7 linked regions of the Homo sapiens genome follow. The protein of the gene in region 4 purifies or fractionates together with the protein of the main gene of each other region. This does not show direct contact. Each region holds a gene or a part of one and is shown on either strand. Other genes may lie near its edges.

The links.
Region 1: the proteins of DUSP2 (region 4) and XPOT purify together in Homo sapiens (affinity purification with mass spectrometry, with the first as the bait; one large-scale study listed by BioGRID). This does not show direct contact.
Region 2: the proteins of DUSP2 (region 4) and RPAP1 purify together in Homo sapiens (affinity purification with mass spectrometry, with the first as the bait; one large-scale study listed by BioGRID). This does not show direct contact.
Region 3: the proteins of DUSP2 (region 4) and MAP2K3 purify together in Homo sapiens (affinity purification with mass spectrometry, with the first as the bait; one large-scale study listed by BioGRID). This does not show direct contact.
Region 5: the proteins of DUSP2 (region 4) and DICER1 purify together in Homo sapiens (affinity purification with mass spectrometry, with the first as the bait; one large-scale study listed by BioGRID). This does not show direct contact.
Region 6: the proteins of DUSP2 (region 4) and ESPL1 purify together in Homo sapiens (affinity purification with mass spectrometry, with the first as the bait; one large-scale study listed by BioGRID). This does not show direct contact.
Region 7: the proteins of DUSP2 (region 4) and ATP2B1 purify together in Homo sapiens (affinity purification with mass spectrometry, with the first as the bait; one large-scale study listed by BioGRID). This does not show direct contact.

Annotation. Positions count from the first base shown.
Region 1 is NC_000012.12:64,417,892-64,421,391, reverse strand, and holds part of XPOT (exportin-T), read right to left. Parts: intron 3,347-3,500; coding exon 3,277-3,346; intron 2,517-3,276; coding exon 2,298-2,516; intron 1,323-2,297; coding exon 1,138-1,322; intron 1,040-1,137; coding exon 871-1,039; intron 158-870; coding exon 1-157. UniProt on the Homo sapiens protein: Mediates the nuclear export of aminoacylated tRNAs. In the nucleus binds to tRNA and to the GTPase Ran in its active GTP-bound form. Docking of this trimeric complex to the nuclear pore complex (NPC) is mediated through binding to nucleoporins.
Region 2 is NC_000015.10:41,527,258-41,530,757, forward strand, and holds part of RPAP1 (RNA polymerase II-associated protein 1), read right to left. Parts: intron 2,723-3,500; coding exon 2,607-2,722; intron 2,312-2,606; coding exon 2,213-2,311; intron 1,080-2,212; coding exon 978-1,079; intron 771-977; coding exon 603-770; intron 349-602; coding exon 166-348; intron 45-165; coding exon 1-44. UniProt on the Homo sapiens protein: Forms an interface between the RNA polymerase II enzyme and chaperone/scaffolding protein, suggesting that it is required to connect RNA polymerase II to regulators of protein complex formation.
Region 3 is NC_000017.11:21,312,211-21,315,710, reverse strand, and holds the end of MAP2K3 (dual specificity mitogen-activated protein kinase kinase 3), read right to left. Parts: coding exon 3,430-3,500; intron 2,220-3,429; coding exon 2,174-2,219; intron 1,565-2,173; coding exon 1,481-1,564; coding exon of another isoform or gene 1,401-1,480; 3' UTR 479-1,400; downstream 1-478. UniProt on the Homo sapiens protein: Dual specificity kinase. Is activated by cytokines and environmental stress in vivo. Catalyzes the concomitant phosphorylation of a threonine and a tyrosine residue in the MAP kinase p38.
Region 4 is NC_000002.12:96,142,669-96,146,664, forward strand, and holds DUSP2 (dual specificity protein phosphatase 2), read right to left. Parts: upstream 2,773-3,996; 5' UTR 2,687-2,772; coding exon 2,299-2,686; coding exon of another isoform or gene 2,215-2,298; coding exon 2,093-2,214; intron 1,706-2,092; coding exon 1,486-1,705; intron 1,370-1,485; coding exon 1,155-1,369; 3' UTR 501-1,154; downstream 1-500. UniProt on the Homo sapiens protein: Dephosphorylates both phosphorylated Thr and Tyr residues in MAPK1, and dephosphorylation of phosphotyrosine is slightly faster than that of phosphothreonine. Can dephosphorylate MAPK1.
Region 5 is NC_000014.9:95,091,530-95,095,029, forward strand, and holds part of DICER1 (endoribonuclease Dicer), read right to left. Parts: intron 2,628-3,500; coding exon 2,359-2,627; intron 1,166-2,358; exon of another isoform or gene 1,040-1,165; intron 1-1,039. UniProt on the Homo sapiens protein: Double-stranded RNA (dsRNA) endoribonuclease playing a central role in short dsRNA-mediated post-transcriptional gene silencing.
Region 6 is NC_000012.12:53,281,799-53,285,298, reverse strand, and holds part of ESPL1 (separin), read right to left. Parts: intron 3,036-3,500; coding exon 2,864-3,035; intron 2,171-2,863; coding exon 2,042-2,170; intron 1,918-2,041; coding exon 1,761-1,917; intron 1,242-1,760; coding exon 1,132-1,241; intron 1-1,131. UniProt on the Homo sapiens protein: Caspase-like protease, which plays a central role in the chromosome segregation by cleaving the SCC1/RAD21 subunit of the cohesin complex at the onset of anaphase. During most of the cell cycle, it is inactivated by different mechanisms.
Region 7 is NC_000012.12:89,590,694-89,593,838, forward strand, and holds part of ATP2B1 (plasma membrane calcium-transporting ATPase 1), read right to left. Parts: intron 603-3,145; coding exon 291-602; 3' UTR 1-290. UniProt on the Homo sapiens protein: Catalyzes the hydrolysis of ATP coupled with the transport of calcium from the cytoplasm to the extracellular space thereby maintaining intracellular calcium homeostasis.

The sequences.
Region 1 (3,500 bases), on a different chromosome or scaffold from region 4:
GCAACATCAGTGCCACTTTTGTTTCAATAGCTTGTAGTGCCTCTTGAGCATTCTTAATATCCCCATTCTTAATTAATTTACTCCAACTAACTATCAATGACTGTCCCATTCCATTTACCAACTTAGAAAATCTGGCCAGGAAGTCAACATCTTCTTCCTATAAGCAATCAAGACACATCTCTGTTTAAAACTGCCTGCCCAAGCTAAGAGGAAAAACTGAACTTTAATATGAATCAAGTGCTAATTACAGGATTCAATTTTAAAATGACGTCATATATTTAACAATTCCAGGCTGGGCACGGTGGCTTATGCCTGTAATCCCAGCACTCTGGAAGGCCGAAGTGGGTGGATTACCTGAGGTCAAGAGTTCGAGACAAGCCTGGCCAACATGGTGAAACCCCGTCTCTACCAAAAAGGTAAAAAATTTGCCGGGTGTAGTGGCATGCGCCTGTAATCTCAGCTACTCGGAAGGCTGAGACAGGAGAATCACTTGAACCCGGGAGACGGAGGTTGCAGTGAGCCGAGACTGTGCCACTGCACTCCAGCCTGGGCAACAGAGTGAGACTCCATCTCAAAAAACAAAACAAAACAAAAAATCTCAATTCCACTATGAACAAGTTGTGTCAGCATCTCCTAAGAGTTTGTGAGAAATGTGCAATTACAGGCTTTCAGGTTTAAGAACTGGTATAACCCATTCTCCAAGGAGAATGCTACTGAGAACATTTTGGCTAGATGCAGTGGTTTATATTATAATCTCAAGGGGAGTTTATAACATTTAGAAGAAAAAAAGCTATTATTATATTTAACTTAGTACCTATCCCAGTTTGTTCTAACAACTTTACATACAATGTTTTATATAAATTTACCAACCTGGTCAATGCTGAAAAACCCAGCAGACTGTAATACTTGACACAAAGATTCCACTAGTTTCATTTTATCAACAGGGTCCATTCCTTTATTTACAACTTCAAATAAACAGTCACATGCTTCTTCCCGTAGAACTTCTATTGACATATGACCTAGCAGCATATTTATAAACCTGGTAATGGGACAATAAAATTGTAACATTTTCAAAGTCATGAGTTTTAGATACTGTATTTTACAAGTTTATACTATAAAAATAATAGGCATACTTACCTATCATTGGCTATAAGGGATAAGTCTATCCAAGAGACATAAGCCCCAACTACTTCAAGGCACTGACACGTCACTTCAGAATTAGTAAACTGATAATTTTGTAATATTTGGTACCATGATTCCACCAGATTTGGAATGCACTGTTCCCTCATGGTATCTTTTATGAGAGTATTCCTACGAGCCTCCTAAAATACAAAACGCCAAATGCAAAGTAGATTACCTTACAAAATCATGTTTGATATCTGAATATACTTGCAGAGAGTAAACTTTCAGACTTGTTAACACATTCCCTACCAGTATTTCCTATTTACCAGCTCTAAGATCATATCCTGTGATTCTTTGTATTTCCTCTTTCTGTTCTACTCCTCAGTGTCAGAGTTAATTTCTTAGTAAATACAAACTATAAAAAGCACTGCTTAGAAATCTTAAGCATATTTTAAGTTATTTCTCAATATAGTAACATAGTACTTACACTATGTGATGAAGAATACAGAAGTAGCAACACGGACAACTCCTAAGCAATGCTTCTTCCTTGCTCAGGGACTATATAGCAGTATTAAATTGAGACTACCTTTCTCAACAGATTCATAAAAGAAAATCAACTCGTGTATGTCACTACAGTATTTGCCTAGTTAAAAAAAATTTAGGCTGGGCGCAGTGGCTCATGCCTGTAATCCCCACACTTTGGGAGGGCAAGGCGGGCGGATCACCTGAAGTCAGGAGTTTGAGCACAGCCTGGCGAAACCCAATCTCTACAAAAAATACAAAAATTAGCCAGGCGTGGTGGCATGTGCCTATAATCCCAGCTACTAGGGAGGCTGAGGTGGGAGAATCGCTTGAACCCAGGAGGCGGAGGTTGCAGTGAGCCAAGACTGTGCCACTGCACTCCAGCCTGGGGAACAGAGCAAGACTCCGTCTCAAAAAAGTAAAAAAATAAAAAATGTAATGTAATACTTTAATTTCAATATACCTCTGGAAAAAAAATAACCAAGTTTGAGTTCCTTCATAAAATAAAATCCAAAACATCAGGTAAATTTATAATTATATAACTTAAGAAAGTTTACCTCAAGAAAGAAAACTTCCCTGCTCTTTTTATTATGTGCCCATTATCACCTACAAAACTTACATTAAATATAAAAAATTCATGGTTAGTTACTTGCCTCTGATGTATGCACCACATCACGATCCACCAACTCTGAATCAATAGCCATGAGGATTCGCAGGTAGAGATCTACTCCCCTTGGATTTAGGTCCACTACTGAGAGAATGTCAAAAAAAAACTTGGGCCACTTAGTGAGATACTCTGTAACAAAAAGCAAGGCGAAGACTTGGGCGGCTTTATTTCGTATAAAGGTCTTCTCTGGTTGGGGATTCAGCATCTGACAAACAGAGAAACAGTCCATAAAATTAAATGTAAATTGAAAAGACCCAGAAACACCAGTTGTCTTATTAAAAGGCAAAGTTTCATCAAATGTCAACATGGCCCAGATAAACTATGCAACAAATACTCTTCAAAATTATTTTGATAATTATGATTATCAAAATTATCAAAAGTATTTAAGTGATTGACCAGATGAAGAACAATTAAATGAACCATTAAAGGCTGTAATGATTATTCCTCATTCTTACACTTTGACAGAAAAGTTTCATGTGCAGAGTTTTAATAGTTCCTATAATTTCTTCTAAGAAGAAAAAAAAATTTTCCTCTACTTGCTCTTTAAGGAAAATGAAAACTCTAGCTACACAACTGCTTTATGTGTTAAGATTAGCTAAAATTAACTGAAAAGAACTCAACTGGCCCTTTATAAAGGGCTCTGGTGGAGAGGCTGTCCAGGAGGGCTCACCTTTAAGAGCCAAACAGAAAGCAGCATTTGTCAAGTAGTTAAAAACAACTACATTTTAAAACCAAAGTTTCCACAATGTGTCATGGAAACTATGACCATTTCAGTCATTGATATAATATTAAATTATTGCTAAACTACCACTTCCATGATCTTTAAAACCAGCACCTTTTAAAAAAGCTATGAAATCAAATGGAGGAACACTGATGAAAATCTTTGAGGTAAAGTTCCAAACTCTTGCAAAAAATAAGTTTAAATATCTAATAATTTGAGGTACTGAATGAAATTATGATTTTACCTGAGCTTGCAGCCATGATATGAGCGTCTCCCTAATTAGCTGTTGTTGAACAGTGGTTAGTTCTGAGTATCTGTTCAAAATAGAGAAGAAAAAGAATAATGGCTATATTTGGTGTCTATGGTTGTAAAAAATAACAGCCTCATATATTTGAAAGGGAAAATTTGTATAGCTCTCAATTATCTGAAGTTCCCTAACATAAACTGATAATGCCACTCATCATTGCT
Region 2 (3,500 bases), on a different chromosome or scaffold from region 4:
AGCACGTAGCGCAGCCGAGGCAGCAGGCTGGTAGCCAGGAGCCCCTGGGAGTTGGAGAGAGAAACCCACTGACAAATGCAGCTGGACCCTGGGCATTGATGGCCCCTCTTTCCAGCATGTGCTTGTCCCCTGGGCCATGGGATGGGAAAGAAGCTGTCCCTTTACCTTGATGACATCATGTCGGGCCAGGTCAGGTGGAGGCCGGCTTTCTTCTTCAGGGCTTTTCCTTTTTGCTTTTCCTGCTGGGCATTCTTCATCCTCGTCCTCATCCTCCTTGTCCTCCTGGCTGGGCATCAGAGGGAACGTCAAAGCTCCATGGTACCAAGAGAAGGTGCTGTCGAGGAGCTCCTGCCAGAGGAACGGGAGTTGGGGGGCAATGCTGAAGGGGCCAGGAAATGGATCCAGGAGTAGAGAGGATGCTCCCCAATAAAAACCATAAAGGCAAGCCTCCTGGGCTTTAGGGACTTTAGGAGATGAGGGAGACGCCTGCCATCCCATTCTACATCTTGCCCGCAAAGCCTTAGCAATGGGGCCATGCCCAGGAACAGGAATATGGACCCTGGCACCTCCCAGCCCAAGCCCCATTCCTATCCCTGTGGTACCTCATCTCCAGGAGCCACCAGCAGAGCCCGAAGAGCACGGATGGCGGTTGCAATGACCCCATCCACTCTGTCATCCAAGGAGAAGCGCAGTAGGAAGAGGAAACCAGCATCCAAAAGGAGGCTTAAGACACTGCCTGCTAGCCGGTCCCCAAACTCACCAGCCTGGGCCTGAGGGCAGGAGGGTAAAACCTTGCTGAAGATGCTGAAGTTATCTAGAGGCTTTGCCCTAATCCTTCGTTTGCCCCCCTATGATCCTAGGTTGTTAAAAGCACATAGCTGGCTAGTGAGCCAGAGTGAAAAGGGCAGGAGATGGGGAAGTCTGAGGCTGTGGGGTGAAGGGAAGGGTGGGCAGGACCAGGCTGGCAATCCACTCACCCTGCTGATGACCTGGGCTAACACATGCAGTGCCAGTGCTCTCTGCTGGGAAACCTGGCTGCGGGTCAGGTGGAACAGCTCCTGTAGGGAATACCCCGCTCTCTGGGGCAGGGACAAGAAGTCAGAAGCAGCCAGGATACAGCACAGTGCCCCCAAAACACCAAGCAAGGTATCACAGGAAAGACAAAGATAAATAAGTGAAATCTGCCCTGCTTTCCATGGAGCCTCAAGCCGGTAAAGATAAGACTTGCATACAAGTAACCATGCCATGAGGCAGATGCAGAGGAACGTGATAACTGATGTTTAATTTGCGACCGGCGGACAGGAGAGAGAGAGAAGGGAACCTGGAAAATTAAATTGGTCTCAGTGGATGGGTAGAGCTTTGATGGCCTGACATGGAGCAAAAGGCAAAGGCATTTCCTGGAGCGAGTGGAGTCCTGGAGGGCCCTGAGCACAGGAGGTATGTGGGGAGAAGCCAGCAGAGTGGTGTAGCAGGAAGTGAAGGAGGCAGAGCAGCAGGGTCAGCAGGGACAAAAGGTAGAAGGAATATCTTGCCCAGCTGAGACCAGAACCTTATTTTGTGAGCAGAGGGAAGCTGGGAAACTTCTGGAGGCAAGGCATGGCCTGAGCTGGGCCAGAAGAAATCAGCACAGCAGCCCCGAGAGACATGGAATGGCAGGGGGGCGGAGAATGGAGGGCATGGAGAGTGAGCAGACCAAGGAAGCAAGGCCACAGTGCAGGAGGCATCATGAGGAGGTGACAGAAGATCGGCAAATTCTAGCAACTGACCAGAATACGGAGAGAGGATCAAGATTTTGAGCCTAAGAAACTGAATGCCACGCCTGTAATCCCAGCACTTTGGGAGGCCGAGGCAGGCGGATCACAAGCTCAGGAGATCAAGACCATCCTGGCTAACATGGTGAAACCCCGTCTCTACTAAAAATACAAAAATTAGCTGGACGTGGTGGCATGCGCCTGTAATCCCAGCTAGTCAGGAGGCTGAGGCAGGAGAATGGCTTGAACCCAGGAGGTGGAGGCTGCAGTGAGCCAAGATCATACCACTGCACTCCAGCCTGGGCCAGAGCGAGATTCTGTCTCCAAAAAAAGAAACTGAATGCACAGCAAAGGCATGAACTAGAACAGGGCACACAGAAGGTCAAAGGCAGTTGACCAGAGATCCTTTTCCATGGGGTTGTTAAAAGAGCTGCCCCATCCTCTCCAGTCCCATGCCTCACCTCTGCCTCCTCTCCATGGTGGTGCAGACCCAGGTGGGTGGGCAGGTCCACGTCAGGGGCCAGTAGTTCTCCCTGAAGACTGAATCGAGCCTGCATCCTCTAATGGGAAGAGAAAGAGGACTGTGGTCTGGGGGCTCCAGCAACCTTCCCACACCCACTCCCCACCTTTAATCCCAGGCCTTTCAGGACTTAGGTACTGACTCTACTTCTACCAGAAATGGGGCTTATCTGGCCTTGGGGGCCAGGCAGAGTGATGGTAAAGGTGGGTGAGAGCAAAGGAGAGATGCTTCTCAGGCTCTGGGCAATAGAAAGGCCTGAGTTCTGAGGGCAAGAGCAGCAGCTCCTCTCCTGCCCTATCTCACCCACCCCTTGTAGGCCAGGTGGCCCTCCTCACCTCCTGTGTCTGCTGCCGCCGGACAGGGGGCAAGTCCTGGGTCCAGTGGAGCTTCTCCAGCTCGACAGTGTCCATGTGCAGCCATTCTTTCTGAGGGGTCACGGGCAATGCCAGAGCTGGGGAGACAAAGCATGATAGTATTACCCAAACGGCTCAGCTCACTATCCACAGGGGTCCCCACCATCACCCAGCAGCTGCCACATCCACTTCTGTTCCAGGATCTGCCAGCTTCTACCCTCGGTTATGGCTAAATGGCATGGCCCAGGGACTGGAACTCCTGGGGCTGGGGTGAAAGTCTCAAATATGACAGACACACTCCATCCTGGGCTCCAGCCCCTTGCTGACCCCAAGGATTTGTTGGGAGGGGAGAGAGGAGGAGAAGGAGAAGGAAGAAAGAGAAAGAAAGGAGAAAAAGATGAAGAAGGAGGACCACATATGTCAGGAAGGCACCATCTCCACTTTCCAGTACCAGCCCTTAAAGGAGTAGGAGAGTGGGGACAATGAGGAGGAGGCAACTATACTGCTCCTGGGGGGCAGGATACAGAAACAAATCCCACAGCATTTTCCTCCTTCACGCCTACCCCCACCCAACCTGCTCAGCTGGCCTGGAGCTCCTCCGGGGGCATGAGGTTCCTGGCTCTCATAATTCAATTTCTTATTTTGTTAATCACTAATGAAATAATCTAGTTTCTGGGAAATGAGTGCTTCCACTGGCCTCTCTGCTTCTGGTCTGGCATGTTCATAAGATCTTTGTCAGATTCTGCCTCTCTTATTACTCTGGCCCTGCCATCTTTCCCCCAGCACTGTGAGCAGAGAGAGAAAGAACAGTGGGATGGACAGAGCCAGAGCTGGGGCAGCTACAGCAAGGACAGGAAGATAGTCTGCCGGGAGCGG
Region 3 (3,500 bases), on a different chromosome or scaffold from region 4:
CAAGTCTGTTTTTCTGTCTTATAAGCTGTGTGGCTTTGGGTAAGTGATGTCAGCTCTCTGGGTCTGTTGTTCCCATCTGTAAACTGGAGGTCAGGTAACCTCCATGAGGTCACCGTGTCCAGCCCAGGCAAAGTGTGCAGGGTGCTCGCTGCTCTGTGACCTGGCTGTCATCACTACTTCAGGACAGTGGGATGGGTGGCCGCCACCAGCAGACTGGACCTGTGTGTTCGCTGCTCTGTCCAGTGTCAGTACAGGGCCTGGTGCCTGGATGATCACAGGATGTTACCTCATCACAGCCCTCTGGGGGCCTCTGTGTCCTCAGATGTAGAAGGGCCTGGTAGGTTGGCAGTCCTCCCTCCCCTGAGCACGACACCCTGCCCCTGGCCCAGAGACAAGGGTCCCTTGAAGGGCCACAACCTTCCCCAAGTAAGAGGGGGGCTCACAGGTGTCATACACAATCTCACACAACCTTTAGTCCTTTTTTTTTTTTTTTTTTTAATTAAAACAGCAACCAGGTAACTGCCCCAACCCATCAGGGAAAGGACCCGGGATGGGCAGTCGTTTTTTCAAAAAAATATATTTTCTTTTTTTAAAAACAACACCAAAGCAAACCCATAGCCCCTGTCAAGCCAGTCCTCAGGGAGAGTGAGCTGGAAGGCTCCCCCTGCACTTCTCTGAGCAGAGATCTTGGGCCCCTCCCACTGGACCCCAGCCTGAGCAGAGGGCAAGGCTCTGCCTGCTGGTACCCTAGGGGGTGGGGGAGAAGCGATCAGCTCCAAACCATGCAAGAAAAACAAGCCAAACCCATAAAGCAAAAGAAAAAATCAACAGAGGATAAATTAAAAAAAACACGAAAGGTGAATGACACCGATAACGGTGGCGGGCAGGACTGGGTGAGCCAGTGTGCTCCGCAGAGGCCCTGTTTGCCAGTGCCAGGGGAAGGCCTTGGGCGGCTCATGGCATCTCCCTCATGGGAGTCTTGGGGTATTCACACAACTCATCCCCTCTTGTGTACCCCGCACCAAAGCCGGGATAGAGGTGTGGCCACCCTGGGCCAAAGTGTGCAAAGTCCATTCAGTCGAGAGATTAAAAAAATATACAACTTGGATGGCATCCAGGCTGGGCAAGGCGGTGGCCCATCCACCCAGGCACTGGCAGCCTGCTGTGCAGGGGCAGCAGCATCCACAGGGGGCATCCAGGCCCCCTCAGTCCAGGATCTCAGCAGCTGGAGACGGGTCCTAGGAGCAGCAGGGAGAGGCACTGGTGGGGCCGACAAGGGCCTGGCTGGGAGCCCCAATGGTCTGCTTCTTTGGCACTTGGGACAAATGGCTCGCCACAGAGCCAGGTGGGAGCAGCCCCCTCGGTTCCTCCCAGATGCCCTGGGCCAGGATGGCAGTAGCTTATGGTGTGGGTGAGCACTGCCCCCGCAGATGGGGCTGTGGGGCTCTGGAGGGCCGGAGTGGGGTCCGAGGCCCAGCCCCTATGAGTCTTCTCCCAGGATCTCCTTCACGAAGGCAGCAATGTCCGTCTTCTTGGTTTTGTGCAAGGTGAAGAAGGGGTGCTCCTGGGGGTGACAGAAGGCACAGTCACCATGGAGGGGTAGCGGGAGGGAGAGGTGGCCACTCTTCCCCAACCAGCTCCAGCCCAAGTGTTCTCCTGACTGGCAAAATCCTACTCATCCTTCTAGGACCTCCACCCCCAGGAGGCCCTCCATGACTGTCACAGATGGCATCTGTGGCTCCTCCTCAGCTCTCTTGTGGTCACTCTCCAGCCACACTAACCTCCCTTTCCCCCCACACGTCAGGCCTCTGCCCATGCTGGACCTTCTGCTTGGGACAGCCTCTCCATCAGGAGATAACCCTTATTCATCCTTCCAGGCTCAGTTCAAATGGTACCTCCTCCATGAAGCCTTCCCTGATGCCACCCTTGGCCCCTCTGCCCCATTCTGTCACACACTGCCTGTGTACCCTTCCCAGGGCCTGGCATGCAGGAAGGAGGGAGGAGGGAGCCAGGTATGCAGGAGCAAACAAATGACCGAGCACCTAAAGGAGAGAACACAGGGCCAGCCAGAGGAGCTACCCATCTGTGTGCAGGATGCAGCCCTCTCCCCAGAGCCCCACCCAGCCCCAGCCAGCCCTGAAGAGCAGGGCAGGCACCTCCCGCCCATACTCACCATCAGCTCCAGGTAGCTCATACGCTCTGCGGGGTTCTTCCTCAGGCTAGGAGAGAATAGTGCAGCTGTGGCCAGGCTGGCAGGGAGGAAGCCCAGCCCCCAAGGGCCAGCCAAACCACCCCAGGATTGCCCCAGGCCTAGCAGCAGGGGACACGTGCACCCAGGGAAGAAGGGACAGGACTGTCTAGGGCTTCTTCCAGGGTGGAGGGGCATTCATAGGAGCAAACTAGAGACTTGCAGCAAGTTTCTCTGGCTCCTGGGGTCCTGGTTTTCTTGTCTGCATAGTGACCTAGGAATTTCCATATCAACACCAAAATGGGGCTGCAATGCTCTGCCTAACAGTCACACACTTGGTATCCTCAATCAGGAGAGAAACTCCTTATCATGGGTTCTGGGAGAAGTTAGTCCACAATTAAAGGGGTCAGACTGCCCAGGGACTCTGCTGGGCTCCTCTGTTGCTGATTATGGTCAACAATAAAAGTGCGGGGACCATGGGTGTGAGCCACCGCACCCGGCCGCTTCTTCCTTACCCAATTCTTGCTCTATTTAATTAAGTTCAGAGAAGTTGCCCTCTTCCTTATTCCTTCTGTAACCTCAAACATGATTTTTTTTTTTTTTTGAGACAGTCTCACTCTGTCACCCATGCTGGAGTGCAGTGGCATGATCTCGGCTCAGGCTCACTGCAACCTCCGGCTCCCGGGTTCAAGCGACTCTCCTGCTTCAGCCTCCTGAGTAGCTGGGATTATAGGCATGCGCCACCACGCCCGGCTAATTTTCCTATTTTTAGTAGAGTCGGGGTTTCACCATGTTGGTCAGGCTGGTCTCAAACTCCTGACCTCGGGATCCGCCTGCCTCGGCCTCCCAAAGTGCTGGGATTACAGGCGTGAGCCACCGTGCCCAGCCTCTCAAACATGATTTTTATAAGGCTCCTATGGGGCATTCTTTAATTTGGTACAAAGTTCTAGATATCAATAAAAGCAAACTTGTTTTTTGTGTTCAAATTTTCCATATACTTTGTTCTCTTTTTCAGTCTATCTGATTTGTCCACTTCTGGAAGAACTGTATTAAAATCTCCCACCAAGACCATCGTTTTGTCAAATGCTCCTCATGCTCCAGCTGTTTCTGCCTTACATATTTGGATGCCAAGTCATCTGGGGGTTTATTTGCCAAAGGAATAAAGGAACAGGGCCCAGGAAGGTGCAGGGATCTGGCCAGGGAGGGGCAGTGGCAGGCGCTCAGCAGCACCCAAGACTCACCACTGAGCAGTGAAGTCCACAAACTCGGGGGAGAAACGGTCGGCTGGGAGCTGGGGGGACGGCTCCTCCAC
Region 4 (3,996 bases):
CCTGGGATGTGGGAGAAGAGTAGGGAGGCCATGCAGGCCTGCTGTGAGGAAGTAGAGACCCACACGGCCTGGGAAGTGCCTCTTGTGTGGGCGTGCACACACGCTCCCACAGGAACACCATGCGCAACATGCAGGTGTGCATGGGCCAAGACCACCCACCCCCACAGGACCACACCCTCAGGCACACACTCGCATCCTTCCACATTCCGAAAAGGAAGCGGGGTCTGATCGGGGCAGCACTGGGCCTGGCTCTGAGTCACGGACGGGACCCAGCCTCCCAGAAACAACCCTGTTCAGCTCTGGAGCGAGGTCCCTGTCTGGGAAAAGACGCCAGCCCAGGGAGAACTGGGGCCAAGAGAGCAGCCTTTGTGGGGAGGGTCAGACCTGCCCCTTCCGGCCGCTGGCCCCTCTGCCCATTCACTTCCCAAACCCCAAGGGCACAAGGAAACGTGAGGTCCAAGCAGGCTCCCGGGTATCAGATGAGACCAGATGCTGGGTTGTTGTTTTTTAAATATAACAATATTTTATTGACATATCCTGAATGTTCTGTATAAATATAAAGTGCTAAGTTTCCAACCCCTGCCCACAGGGCTAGGAGGAAGCGGGGGAGGGAGTGTTAAATGTCAGCTGAGCACAAATAATTTTCCAGCGCCAGCACAGGTGTGAAAGGCTCACAGACAGACACACGCAACATGACACACCCATCACTTCCCAAGTCCCCAGCTTCCCCAGGAACACAGGGCTTGGGCTCCAGGCCCTGGGCAGACGAACCCACAGACAGGGCTCCTGGTTGTCACAGCTTGTTCCTTGGAGCTCTCAGGCTGCCAAGGGCTTCAACATGGTGGTGGACCAGGGAGAGTCCACGGTATAGCGTCTAGCTGATTTCTGCCAGAGGATGGGGAGGGAAAGAGCAGACACACCCTTGGTTCCCGACCCCGAATGAGGGCCAGCCTCAGTCCCCCAGCAGAAGAGCACCAGGTCGGAAAGACCAGCATGCCGGCATTCCTAGAGCCCCCATGTGGGGGCTTCTGAAACTCTGAGGAGGTAGCAGCCCTGCCAGAGGTGAGGGGACTGTGCTGGCCCAGAGGGGAGCCCACCAGTCCACAGTCAGCTCCTGCCAGCACAGTGGGGCAGGCAGGCAGAGGGGCACCACCTCAGTGACACAGCACCTGGGTCTCAAACTGCAGCAGCTGCCCCATGAAACTGAAGTTGGGGGAGATGACCCCCCGGCGCTGCTTAACGAAGTCAAAGGCCTCGTCCAGCCGCACACGGCGACTCTGCATGAGGTATGCCAGACAGATGGTGGCAGAGCGCGAGATACCCGCCTGGCAGTGCACCAGCACCCGGCCTCCGCTGTTCTTCACCCAGTCTGCAAGGGAGATGGGGGAGTGGTGTCAGACGGAATGTGCACAGCCCAGGAGACAGGTGCCCCCAGTCCTCTCCTCTGGAGCCCCTCGGGATTTCTGGGCAGAGGTGCCCCCTTACCAATGAAGCCTATGGCCTCCTGGAACCAGGCACTGATCTCCACCATCTGGTTGTCCTCCACAGGGATACTCTTGTAGCGGAAAAGGCCCTCAAAGTGGTTGGGGCAGCTGGCGGACACGTTGAGGACGGCTGTGATGCCACAGGCCTGCAGCCCCTGCAGGTCTGACGAGTGACTGCAGCTGCCCAGGAACAGGTAGGGCAAGATCTCCACAGGGCCACCCTGGAGGGAACAGAGGGGCGGTGAGGCCTTTCCAGCCCAGCCCCGGAGAGCTGGAGCAGCAGCGGGTGGAGACCCCATGGGCTGGCCGAGACAAGAGGACTCCTCAGCCAGTCCTCCTGACCTGAGACAGGTCTCAGGAATGTGCGGAGGACACACCGGGACATACATTTCCCTTCATGCTCCCAACATACACATGCAAACATACACAGACCCATACAGGCACGCGCGAGCAGCCATGCCCCACCCCCTCCCCCAACACACACACGTATAAAAGTGTGTGTATATGGGCAAACTGCTCGCATCCCCAAATGGCAGGCTCTTTCCCTAGAGGCGCCCAGTCCGCGGCGGGGAGAGAGGGAGGTTCGGGGGAGGGGGGTCAATACTCACCTGGTCGTAGACAGGAGCCCTGGAGTCGGAGCGGCTGGTTTTGTCCCCTGTTGGCGGCAGCGCAGGGGCGGGGGCCTCAGAGCACAGATCGGGACAGCAGCCCTGGAAGCCGTCGAAGCCTCCTGCAAGGAGGGGAAGAGCACGATCAGCAGGGAAAGCCGGGCTGGAGTCGGGTGGGGCGGGCCAAGGGCGGCCGGCTTGCTCACCTCGCAGGAAGTACACGGCAGTGGGCCCCGCGCGGGTCTCGTGCAGCAGCGCGGCCAGCAGCACATGAGCCGGGCTGTCGGGCCGGAGCTCCGCCACCGAGGCACTGCCCTCGTCCAGCACCACGGCCCGCGCCAGCTCCCCGCGGACCAGGCGCGTCCGCAGCGCGCGGTCGGGCAGCAGGCAGGCGAGAACGGCGGCAGGAGGGCCGCGCGCGCGGCGCCGCAGCAGCGCGTTCCAAGGCACTGGCCGCGCGGCGCGCACGTGGCGCCGGCAGAAGGCCAGGAAGGGGCGGCAGTCCAGCAGCAGCGTGCGTTCCGCCTCCCGCGGATCCCGCAGCAGCGTGCCCAGCGCCGCGCACTCCAGCTCGCGCGCCGCCTCCAGCCCCATGGCCACCGGTGCCTCTTCCTCTTCCTTTCGGTCTTTCCCGCGTCCCGGGCTCTCGTGGCGGTGGCGCTGCCCGAGCGGTCGACTCCGGGCGCCCTCCGCGGCGGCCCGGGTTAAGTACCCGTGGGCCGGCCTCCGGGGCACCATACAAGGGCAGAGCAGGAAGGCGCTGGCGCCCGCGCCCGCCCCCGCCCCTCACGTGGGGCGCAGTCTGGGCTGACCTGGAGACTTCGGGGCGGGGGGGAGGTTGAGGGGGAAGGCAGGGCGCGGGGACCAACACACCGGGAGGAGGCGGGGACCAGCGACTAAGGGAAGGGAAGGTGTTACCCGGAGTCGGAGGGACTAGCACCCCTCCGTTTTTGCGCCCACCCTTTGACCTGTCCCAAGCCACTCAGTCCTGGGGAACCCAGCTTCTCAGATGCAGGTCCCCCTTTAGGGCCAACGATGACCCTTGGAGTACCCCACCCCCTAACCCCACGCTTCCTCTGCCTTTTCCCTTTCCCTCCCAGAATTTTCCTCTTAGAAATTTGTCACCACAAACATTGACAAATGCCTGCTGCCACGGGTGATTTCTACACTGGATGATGGGGGGGGTCCCTGCTGAGATGTCCTATTTCTCATCTATTTGGAGACCTTGAGCCAGAGGGACTTTCTCTCTCCTCCCCCTCCCCACCCCCCATTGCCTGGATAAGACCAGTACTCAGGGTCTTGCAGTAGGTTGGTGGCCAAGCTAGGCCAGAACACAGTCCCCGGGGCCCAGGCCCCTGGGCTTGGGCCGAAGGGAAATGAGGGGGGGTCCCAGGGCCTTTCATGGGGAAAGCAGGGGTCTGTGACTGGTTTCCAGTTATGTGTAGGGCAAAGCTTCTTCCTCCTGGGTGCAGGGAAAGCCCCCAGGCCCCAGAGAGAAGTACTTCCCCCTGCCACAAGCCCGCCCTGGAGGGAAGTCCGCTGACGCTCCCGGCCCTCCCCAGGCCTGCGGGGATTTCAAGACCTTGGCAAGGGGAAGAGGGAGAAGCAGAACAGAACTGGCCTCCCCCATCCTAGGCCTCCCTGTCCAGCCCCGCCGGGCAGCAAAGTCCAGGGCTAGCACTGCACCCGGAGGACTGGGGGCCTGGGTATCCCCTCCATTCCGCCCTCCCCCAGCCCTGCTGCCGGATGTGGTGAGGCCCAGGTGTGCGTGGGGTGTCTGAGCCACAAGAATTGTTGGCAGTGAACTCCCAAACTCAAGCAGAGAAGTTGAGGTGGGTGGAGACAGCGTCACTGCGCTGGAGCTGCCCTCGCCCTGCCCCCAGCTGCGTGGGATTTCAGAACCC
Region 5 (3,500 bases), on a different chromosome or scaffold from region 4:
ATATTTTTAAAAAAGTTTTTCAAACTTCTCAAGAAAAAAAGAAAAAATATCCCCACCCCATTTATTATTCTATATACCCAGCAAAGAAAAAAGATTACTTCTAACTTTAAACAACCTTAACAAAGAATTAGAAATAGTCAATAAAAGTATGAAAAAAATTCAAATTCACTCGTAATCAAAGAACTATACTTTAAAACAGTTCTACTCCCTAGCTGCTTGGCAAGCATTCAATAGTACTAATTGGTCTGGTGCTGGCACGGGTGTATGCTGCTTTGGGGAGCAGAAATCGCTGTTGTAGGGAAATAGGGAAATTATATTTGAAAGATTTTTTCCTCCAAGTTCCCTCTTCATTAAGCCACTAGATATGTGTTCACTATAACCGAGTATCTGACATAGCATGTATGCAAATTAATAAAAGAAAATCATGCATCAAAAGCCTTTGAAAAGTTCACAATTCTTTGATGCAGCAATTGCATCTCTAAGAACTTATTTTAAGGAGGTAACTAGATACATAAGCGTATTTATCACCTCCATGGTTATTAAACATCCTAACCAAAAACTACTTAATTACTCGGCCATAAAGAAGCGTTTAAATCAATCAGCCACGTGTTGACTAGCGTGTGGCCCCTGAGCATCACGATACCCATCAATACACGGAAAGTCAGCCACAATATATTATACGTGAAAAGAACAGGTGACAGTATCCTATACATAACAGAATTCCATTTTACATTTTAGATATGTTTATATCTATACACATCCACAATTCCTCCCAAAATGTTAATATTGGTTATTTCCGAGGTAGCATAATCAGGCAAATTTAACTAATTTTCTTCTTATTTACTTGTACTAACTTTTCTAAAATCAACACAAATCATTTGTGAAAAAAATAAAGAGAAAGTGGGAAAATACTAATTTCTAATAGGTTGTTTAGCCATACAAAGTTACATATAATACATTTATACTGCTGATTACTTAAAAAAACAGACTTATTGTTCATATTTATGGTTTTGAGATAGAAAGGAATTTTAAAACTTACCAAGTTTAATTCTCTCTTTTTACAGCTGAGGAAACGGAGGCCCAGAGAGGTAAAGAGACTTTCTTAAGATCAAATAGTAAGTTAGAAATGCCAGACCATGACATTTCCAATCAGTTCTTGTAACTTCTATACATATGTTTATATAAACAAAGGGAAGGAAAAGAATGAACAAAAACTAACAAAACCAATATGCCCCACTGGCATCCAAAGAGAGCTTAAATCTAATTTTAACTAATTCCTCAAATTTCAAGCTTAGCTATTTCTAAAGAATGAGACTAGGTAACACTTGGAAGTCTACGAGCTGGTCCCGCCTTCTCGCCTCACAGCCTGCCACGCTCCAGCTCAGGCTGTTCATCTTGGACAAGAGCACAGAGGCGCGTTAAAGTAAGAGCAGGGCCTACTGACTCCTCCAGTGCACATCTGGGCAGCTGGCAGGGCGTGAACTCGGCTCTGCGGCTAGACTTCAAACCTACTCTTAATTTTTGTCATAGAAAGTCACTACTCCCCAACAAAGGTTTGGTGCAATTAAAAAGGGGAAGGTACAAATTAAAGCAATGACAACTAAAACAGCTACTAGTATTAAGGTTGTATTTCCTGACTCCTTATAAGAAAATCTACAAAAATAAGAAAATCAAAGGAAATGAAATGGGAAGAGGAGGAAATGAGAGTCTCTCTGGGGGACACAGGTATGCAGATGAATGTTAAGAGACTGGAAAGATCTAAGCAATATCCTTTCCTACAAAAATTCGAAATAGCTCACAAACACATTAGAATTAGCTCTGTCACCAGACAGCCTTTGGCTGAACTTACAATAGAAGCCTCCCAAATTCCAATGGTCAAAAATTTAGAAGTTTGTTTTTTAAATTAGATTTTCCCACTTCAAGTAGAAGCAGAATGTATATTTATGATGCTTCCCTGAGATATTAGCAAATATTTCTGATCCATTTAAAAAAGGAAGGATAAGCTACACTGGGCTTTTACTAAAGCTAAACCTGCCTTGGGGTCCGGCAGTGGAGGCCACTTCTTTGGCATGCCTCAATGCTGGAAGCCCTCATGAAGGCGTGGGAAGGGTACCTAACTGAAAGGCCTGGTTCCTTCTCTTCACCTGAATGACCACACAGCCCACAGTGGGGGCAGACAAGTTCAAGAGGCCTACCTGCAAACTGCAGTTCACTCGTGCTCCCACAGAACACAGCACACTGGGTCCCACACCCCTGACCTCCTGCTGTCCCTTTAGACCACTATGCCGTCAGAACTCTGAAACTACAGAGACTCCTAGTTAGACCACTTTTTTCAACATCGTTTTGAACAGCACTAACCTCAGAATCCATTCCTTGCATTTCATTCTTCTCAAGCTGAAACTGCACAAAGTCATCAATGACATGGAAGAGCTCAGGAGAGACAGCTTTGAAGTACTTGTGGTAGTCGTACTTTACAGCCAGCGATGCAAAGATGGTGTTGTTGACCAGGGCAGACCGCAGGTCTGTCAGGACCCCCGGGGAGTGCTGCCGCGGGTCTTCATAAAGGTGCTTGGTTATGAGGTAGTCCAAAATCGCATCTCCCAGGAATTCTAAGCGCTGGTAACAATCTGAGGGGATCCGAAGTGGAACCGTAAGCTTGTGCAGAAGCATTTACACTATCCCCACATAGCAACTGATCCCCAAATCCGAAGAAGATTTGTATTTACAATCATTTTCATACATATATTCTTCAAAAAGGATATCTGACATATCATACTAAAAAGCCTCTGGAAACTAAATTTTAATGACAAATTAAGTACATTTCTTATATAAACTGGGGTCATAAAATCTTCAAGTGGTCAAAAGACTAACGCTTGTTAAGAAGGAAAAACAAAACCTCACAGGTGCTATCATGATCACTGAATGCTTTTCTCTGGCACTGTGCTGTCTGGGCAGGTGCTGGGGCCTTCCTCTCGAGTCTCCCTCACACATCATCACTTAAGTGAAACCAGGGCCGCACACACCTCTCCATGTGGCTACACTGTGCTGCCATCGCTAAAGTCTCATTCACACTCTGGAATCTGTGCATAAGTGATACCATTCCTCACTATTCCTGGGCTATTTTTGTTACACAGGATGACAGGAAAAGAAGACCCTCTTCTTAACTTGAGCTATTATAGAAATGAATTTACCACAAACCAAGAGATTGAGAAAGAAGAGTTGTGAAAGGGAGCAAAGGCAGGTAAACTGGTTGTCAAAATGTGAAAATGATCAATGTTAAATCAACACCTCTATTTTCTCACAGTGATTAAAATAATATATCCAGCTGAGGAAACTGAGGCAGGGACCGATGGTGACTTGTCCCAGAATAAGCAAGGAATTAAGAAGCAGGGACTGCTAGGCGAGAACCCAGGTCTCGGAACTTCCAGCAGAATGTAGTCGAAAGCCACGTATCATTTTTCCTCCATAACGAAAATTAGGCTTTAGTTTCATCAGTCTTT
Region 6 (3,500 bases), on a different chromosome or scaffold from region 4:
CTTTCTCATTTAACAAATGAAAATAATCTATGCTCCCACTCAGCTTTATGAGGTCTAGTGTGGGGCAAATGAAGTACTAGAAGTATATGTGATTGGGGAGACAAAATGTGCCATCAATGCAATGTTTTATTATTAGCTTCAGCCCTCCTGAGGATATGTTTGTGCTACTCAATACGGTAGCCACTAGCCATGTGGCTATTGAGCACATGAAGTGTGGCTAGTGTGACTGAGGACTGAATTCTAAATATTATCTTTCTTTCTTTCTTTCTTCTTTTTTTTTTTTTTTTTGAGTCAGAGTCTCGCACTGTCACCCGGGCTGGAGTGCAATGGTGCAATCTTCCTCACTGCAACCTCCGCCTCCCAGGTTCAAGCTATTCTCCTGCCTCAGCCTTCTGAGTAGCTGGGATTACAGGTGCCCGCCACCATGCCTGGCTAATTTTTGTATTATTAGTAGAGATGGGGTTTCACTTTGTTGGCCAGGCTGGTCTTGAACTCCTGACCCCATGATCCGCCTGCCTCAGCCTCCCAAAGTGCTAGGATTACAGGCATGAGCCACCGAGCCCGGCCCTAAATATTATCTAAATCAAATTTAAATAGCCAAAATGTATTAGGAAGCACTGAAAACTAGAACTAGGGTAAGTCTGGGACAGGCTCTCTGAAAGAGGGAGACCAATGGTTGGACTAAAGTCAAGGGAATGTTGCCCTGGGACCAGAAGTCAGTATCTGATTAAAAAGGGAACAAAGGCCGGGAGCGGTGGCTCATGCCTGTAATCCCAGCACTTTAGGAGGCCGAGGCGGGTGGATCACCTGAGGTCAGGAGTTCGAGACCAGCCTGGCCAACATAGTGAAACCTCATCTCTACTACAAATAAAAAAAATTATCCGGGTGTGGTGGCGCATGCCTGTAGTCCCAGCTACTTGGGAGGCTGAAGCAGGAGAATCACCTGAACCTAGGAGGCAGGAGGCAGGGGTTGCAGTGAGCCAAGATCACGCCACTGCACTCCAGCCTGGGTAATAAAGTGAGACTCTGTCTCAAAAATAAAAAAAGGCAACGAAACCTTTACATAGAAAGATGTGCTGTAGTGTGTGTCATTTCAGCACCGCCTATGGTCATGGGGACATGGCTGCTCACCTGTGCAAGACTCAAGCAAGAACAGAACCTGCTGCAGGTCCGACTGACAGAGATCAATGTCATTGCGGGCCAGCTCCAGCTCGCCCTTCAGCACCAGGAACAGGGCACACCTTGTTGAGAGAGGAGAGGAGAACCAATCAGAGGAATCCTTTGTTTTCCTGGAGAGTCTTTCTCTTTGCCTCTTTCCCAGGCCAAGCTACCTGAGTCCTTCCCTGCCTCCAAAAGGCATTCACTCCCTTAAGCTGACTTAAAGGCTCCCTGGGGAAAACCCTCTACACTTCTCTCTAATCCCAACTCTCCTTGTGCCTTGGGACAGGATTTCCCAAACTGCATTCCTCAATAAAAGAATCCTGTGGGAAAACATTCTTAGGGAAACACTGTACACTAGATCTCCCTTTTGGAGATTTGCAAGGCACATCCGCATACTGAAGGACACGAGAGTCCTACAGGAAATAAAAACATCTAACCTTGATTAACTCAGCATTTCCCACTTATTTAGCTGTGGAATGCCTTTTTCCACGAATGTATCTAAACATAGCATGTAATCTGTGGAACAGTTTGGAATCCATGTTCAAGGGTGCATGGCACTTTGGTGCCATCATTGCCATATCCTCTGGCCCTGTACTTACTGGCGTGGTATCTGCAGCTTTGTTGTAAGTTTTAGGGCCTCCAAGCAAAAGGCCTTGGCTTCACTCACACTACCCAGGCGGCCCAGGTGGCAGACCAGCTTCTCTGAGCAGCTCAGCACCTCTGAAAGAACCTGCCATTTTTGTACCAGATTTTCACCTGTAGCAAAAGAGACAAGACCACCATCACTCAGCCACAGTGTGGATCCTCTGGAGAAAAAACCGCAGCCCTCTCACATAGCCTGTCCATTCCAAGAGGGCCCTGCTGTCCTCCCCAGACTCACCATAGTCCAAAAACGATGTCTCCACAGCTGCTTTCTGAGTTGAGAGAATGTCACTGCCCATCAGCAGGAGGATGATGCTTCGGAGGAGCTTATGGGAGTCTATGAGAGCTATCTCAGGTGTCTGCCAGCCTGTGGTGGGTGGGGTGAAAAAGGGAGAAGATGCAGCCAGAACTTCACCACTTTTAGCTACTAAGGCAGCAAAGCCTGCTTCCCATGCTTCCTTCTGCATTAAGGCAGGCAGAGCTAATCAATCTCATAACTCCTTCCCTCTGAGATCCCCTGGGGTCTCAGAATCCTTTCAGCTGGCTGGGCGCAGTGGCCCAAGCCTGTAATCCCAGCATTTTGGGAGGCTGAGGCAGACGGATCACCCGAGGTCAGGAGTTTGAGACCAGCCTGGCCAACATGGTGAAACCCCACCTCTACTAATAATACAAAAATTAGTCGGGCGTAGTGGCGCATGCCAGTAATCCCAGCTACTCAGGAGGTTGAGGCAGGAGAATCGTTTGAACCCAGGAGGCAGAGGTTGCAGTGAGCTGAGATTGCACCATTGCACTCCAGCCTGGGTGACAACAGCGAAACTCCGTCTTAGAAAAAAAAGAAAAGAAAAAAAAATCCTTTCAGCCTAGTATTCCAGGCAGTCACCAATTGTTTAGAGTCAGCAGGCAAACTGAAACCCATCTGCTATCCCAGGCCTACTCTGTGCAGGTTCTAGGTAGGCTGGGCCACATAGTTAGCCAGCAGAGGGGATGAGGTTTGAGAAGAGCTGACAGCAGACAGACCATACATGTCATCCAAGGGGGGCCATCCACCCTATTCTTTCACCTTGGGCACAGAGCTGCTCCCACAGGGAGTGTGAGAGGTTGTTTGACGGGAGGCTAAGGTAAGCTGCCACCAGCTGCAGGACCTGGACACGCAGCAAGTACCAAGCCTTGGAGGACTTCTGGAGGGCAGGATCCCGAAGCACAGACAGCAGCAGAGAGACACCCTTGGTCACCTGAAGGAGAGAAGGAGCCAGAGGAGGCAGTAAGGCAGTCAGGCACTCCAGAGCTTGAGAGGCCCTGGAGATTACGTGGCCCCATCCCTGAAGGCCCTGGGTATTAGAAAGATTTTAGAATTTTCTGAATATTTGCCTGGCTTTCGAGATCTCCCTGGACCTAGGCAGAATGTTCCTGACCCTGAGAAGCAGTAACAGTTCCTAGCTTTGCCCTCACCAGTGACTTGTCCGCCAATTTAGGAATGATAAAAACGTAGAGAAGAAACTAGAGCATGAGAAGGTAGAAGACGTGCCCAAGTCACACAACTAGTTTGGGAGAAAACTCAAGTCTTTGCCATCCCCTGGATTTCTAGTCCAGAGCTCCCATGCCTTCCCAGGATCACCATTGTCCCAGCTTTTCGTCACAGGACAGACTTTCCCCCTTGCCCCTGAAGAAGGAAAAGGACTGTATCTCTACCAGAGGAG
Region 7 (3,145 bases), on a different chromosome or scaffold from region 4:
AATACACTGTTCAGGACCATGCTTGGGTACTACTGATGATCCACAGGTCACTTACGCTGAGTTACTGTTTATCTGTCAGTTCATTTCTCCCACCCCCCAAAAAGCACCCTCAGTCTGGCAGAAAGCTTTGCTTTTTTTTTTTTAAAAAAATAAATCTACATTCGTACAAGTGTGTCTTCTGTTGAAGTCCAAAGACAAGAATACTAGCTTGTCCATCACAATATGTGAAAAGACCCAGTTTCAATTTGTTTCTTTACAATGCAGCTAGTGTGTTAACATTCAGCTTACAATCAGAGTGATGTTTCCAAACTATGTAGTGGGCTTCCTGGGGATGAAGAGGTAGCAGACTTGTTCATTTCTATTGTAAGGTGAATTCCACTGTCAACAGCATTGTTATTTTTGTTGGGAGAGGGTGGAGGACTGGAGTTACGTTTTGTAGGAGCATCATCTTCGGCATCAGTGTCATCAATAAGGGGGATATGAGGCTCTGAATCTTCTATCCTAAACTCAGGATGTGTCATAAAGTTGTGAATCGAACTTCTTGATTCCGGTTTTTCTAACCCTTCATATAAAGAACTACGAAATGCATTCACCACTCGAATCTGTAAATATCAGAAAATACAGAAATATGTCAGTACACTATTAACAACTTAAAAATGGTTCATTTATGAGTTTGAATCCACAAACAGCTAGGTATGAGTGAATCATATTTGCATGTAATGCAGTGGAACTTGCAATACACTGTAAAAAAATGAATATTTTAGTAAGACACTACAGAACAACAAAACCACATACTCTAAGAATTAAGAGGTAAAGAATTCAAAGTAATATTAAGAAAATCTCATTGTCATTGGCTAAAAATTTAATAGCCATTTTATAGGATTTTTTCCCTAAAAGAACAAATCAAACACAAAACAAAACAAAAACTTAACCATACACAAGCTTAGCTGATTTTTTAAATTAAAAAGAATGTATTTTGAAAACAACTCAAATAAGTTAAACAAAATCAAGCACAAAGGGTTACTATTTATCATGCTAGGAATTAGGGTGTCACCGACCATGAAAAAGCCAAGCAAATATAAGCTGAATGCCACAATGAACTCACATCTACCCCACTACTCCCTTAATTAAAAACAAAAATAAGAACAAAACCCAAATAAATGTCTATAAAATGCCATTAAACAGCTATAAATATTTGAGTATATGCCATTTGTCTATCATTTGTCTATAAAGTTTTAGTGTTTTTCTCTGTAACAGATTAAAACTTAAATCAATTACTACAGTTATCTGGAAAGAATAGATCAAAAACAAAAACAAATCCTCTGGGATTCTTCTGTGAAAAATTTCCCAAGAAGACACAAAGTGTTAAAAGTTTTCTAGTATTTTCACCCCTAAGCAGATAGCTCAACAATTCATCTTCCTCTCAGTCTGCTGTATAAATGAAAAAGATTAGTGGGCAATCAAACTTAAAAACATCAGTGCACACACTGACATTAAGTGCTATTAACTCAAGCGTCATTCAGATTTAGAAAAAAAAGGACAAAATCCAACTAGTTGAGCATTTACTATGTATCAATTCAAATACAGTGTTTGCTTTTGCTTTGATTCTAATAAATCCTGTTTAGTAATAAAGACATCATTTACTCATTGTTAAGAGAAATAAATAACACTTTGACATTCTAGAAAAAAGATGCGGTCACCAAATTCATCTCTTTAGACAGCAATAATGAATAATACATTTCTTCAAATGAACATGTGAATGTGTTTAAAAAAATGTAATGTAGAGTTTAGGGCCATGCACCCACATCTCACCTTCAAGTTGTCTTTCCTTATTTGCCAAGCCCTATTTGTAAGCTGCTTTTAGTCCATATTCACTTAGCCCTTTATATAGAGAGTACAGCATAGTCAACTGAGAAATACAAAAGCAAAATGTCTGGGTGTAAATTCCAGCTCTGCCACTTACTACCTGAGGAACCTCGGTCAAACAGGTTTCTTCAACTATAAAATGGGAAATAGCAATGGTACTTGCCTTACGGGGTTGTTGTGGGAGATTAAATTCGTTAGCACACTACAAACTTAAAACAATGTTAGGTCACAAGTATCGAGGCCAGGGCTTCTCGAACTTTAATGTGCATACAAATTAGTTGGGGATCTTGTTAAAATGCAGATTCTGATTCAGCAGGGGCCTAAAGTCCTGCATTTCTAACAACCTCCAAGGTGATGCTAAAGCTGCTGGTCCATGATCCACACTTGGAGCAGCAAGCATCTATTCTATTAATGTCTTGCAGCTTTACCATCTTTTATAATTCCATTCTATTTGATTGCTTGTACTTCAGTTCCTTAATTTGACTGATGAATAGCAGCAAATATTTTTCAACTTCTTTTATTGCTCTTGTTCCTCTTCCCCTTTACTAAGATGTAAAGTGTTCTACATATGGAATGTAAACAATGTTTGCTAAATATAACGTTATAGTAATTCATTCAGTGTTTTATTGTGAAGTCTTAAAATTCACATTTTATACATGTGAACATTCAGCAAGTATCCTGACTGTCCTAATAACAAACTGTAAAGCTTAAAATGCAAAAAGATAACTTTCTAAAAAAAAATTTGTTGGTATCAGCAGCCCGTAGGCACGGAGGAGAATACAAATTAGAGGATCAGCCAGCAAACTTGATGGGTGATGAGAACTGTTCAAGACAACCCTGAAGATGTTGCTTATTTGATAAGGTTGCTGGTGCTGCTGCTACTGAAGATAGAACAACAGTTAAGCTTTCTGTGTATGTGTGTGTTTTCCATCTGTTTTTCTTTGTAATCAGTCGGTATAAAAGTGAGCAGTGAAGAATCGGGGGGAAATAAATGTACTTTTTAAACATGTTAAATTTGGAAAATATCTAGAGCTCAGAAGAAAAGTGTAAACTTAAGTTAGAGATTTGAGAGTTAGTGAAGCTCTAAGAGGGGCAGAGTGTAAAGGTGAGGGCAACAAGTATATGTGCACACACAATCACACACATACACCGGTGGCAGGCAAAGAAAGATTAAATCCCTTCTTAGCAAAACTTCAATTCTGAGAAGATTTTTCCTATCTGAATTTGTTGAACAATATTAGAGATTTTTTTTTTCTAACCACTTCATAAATAATAAAAC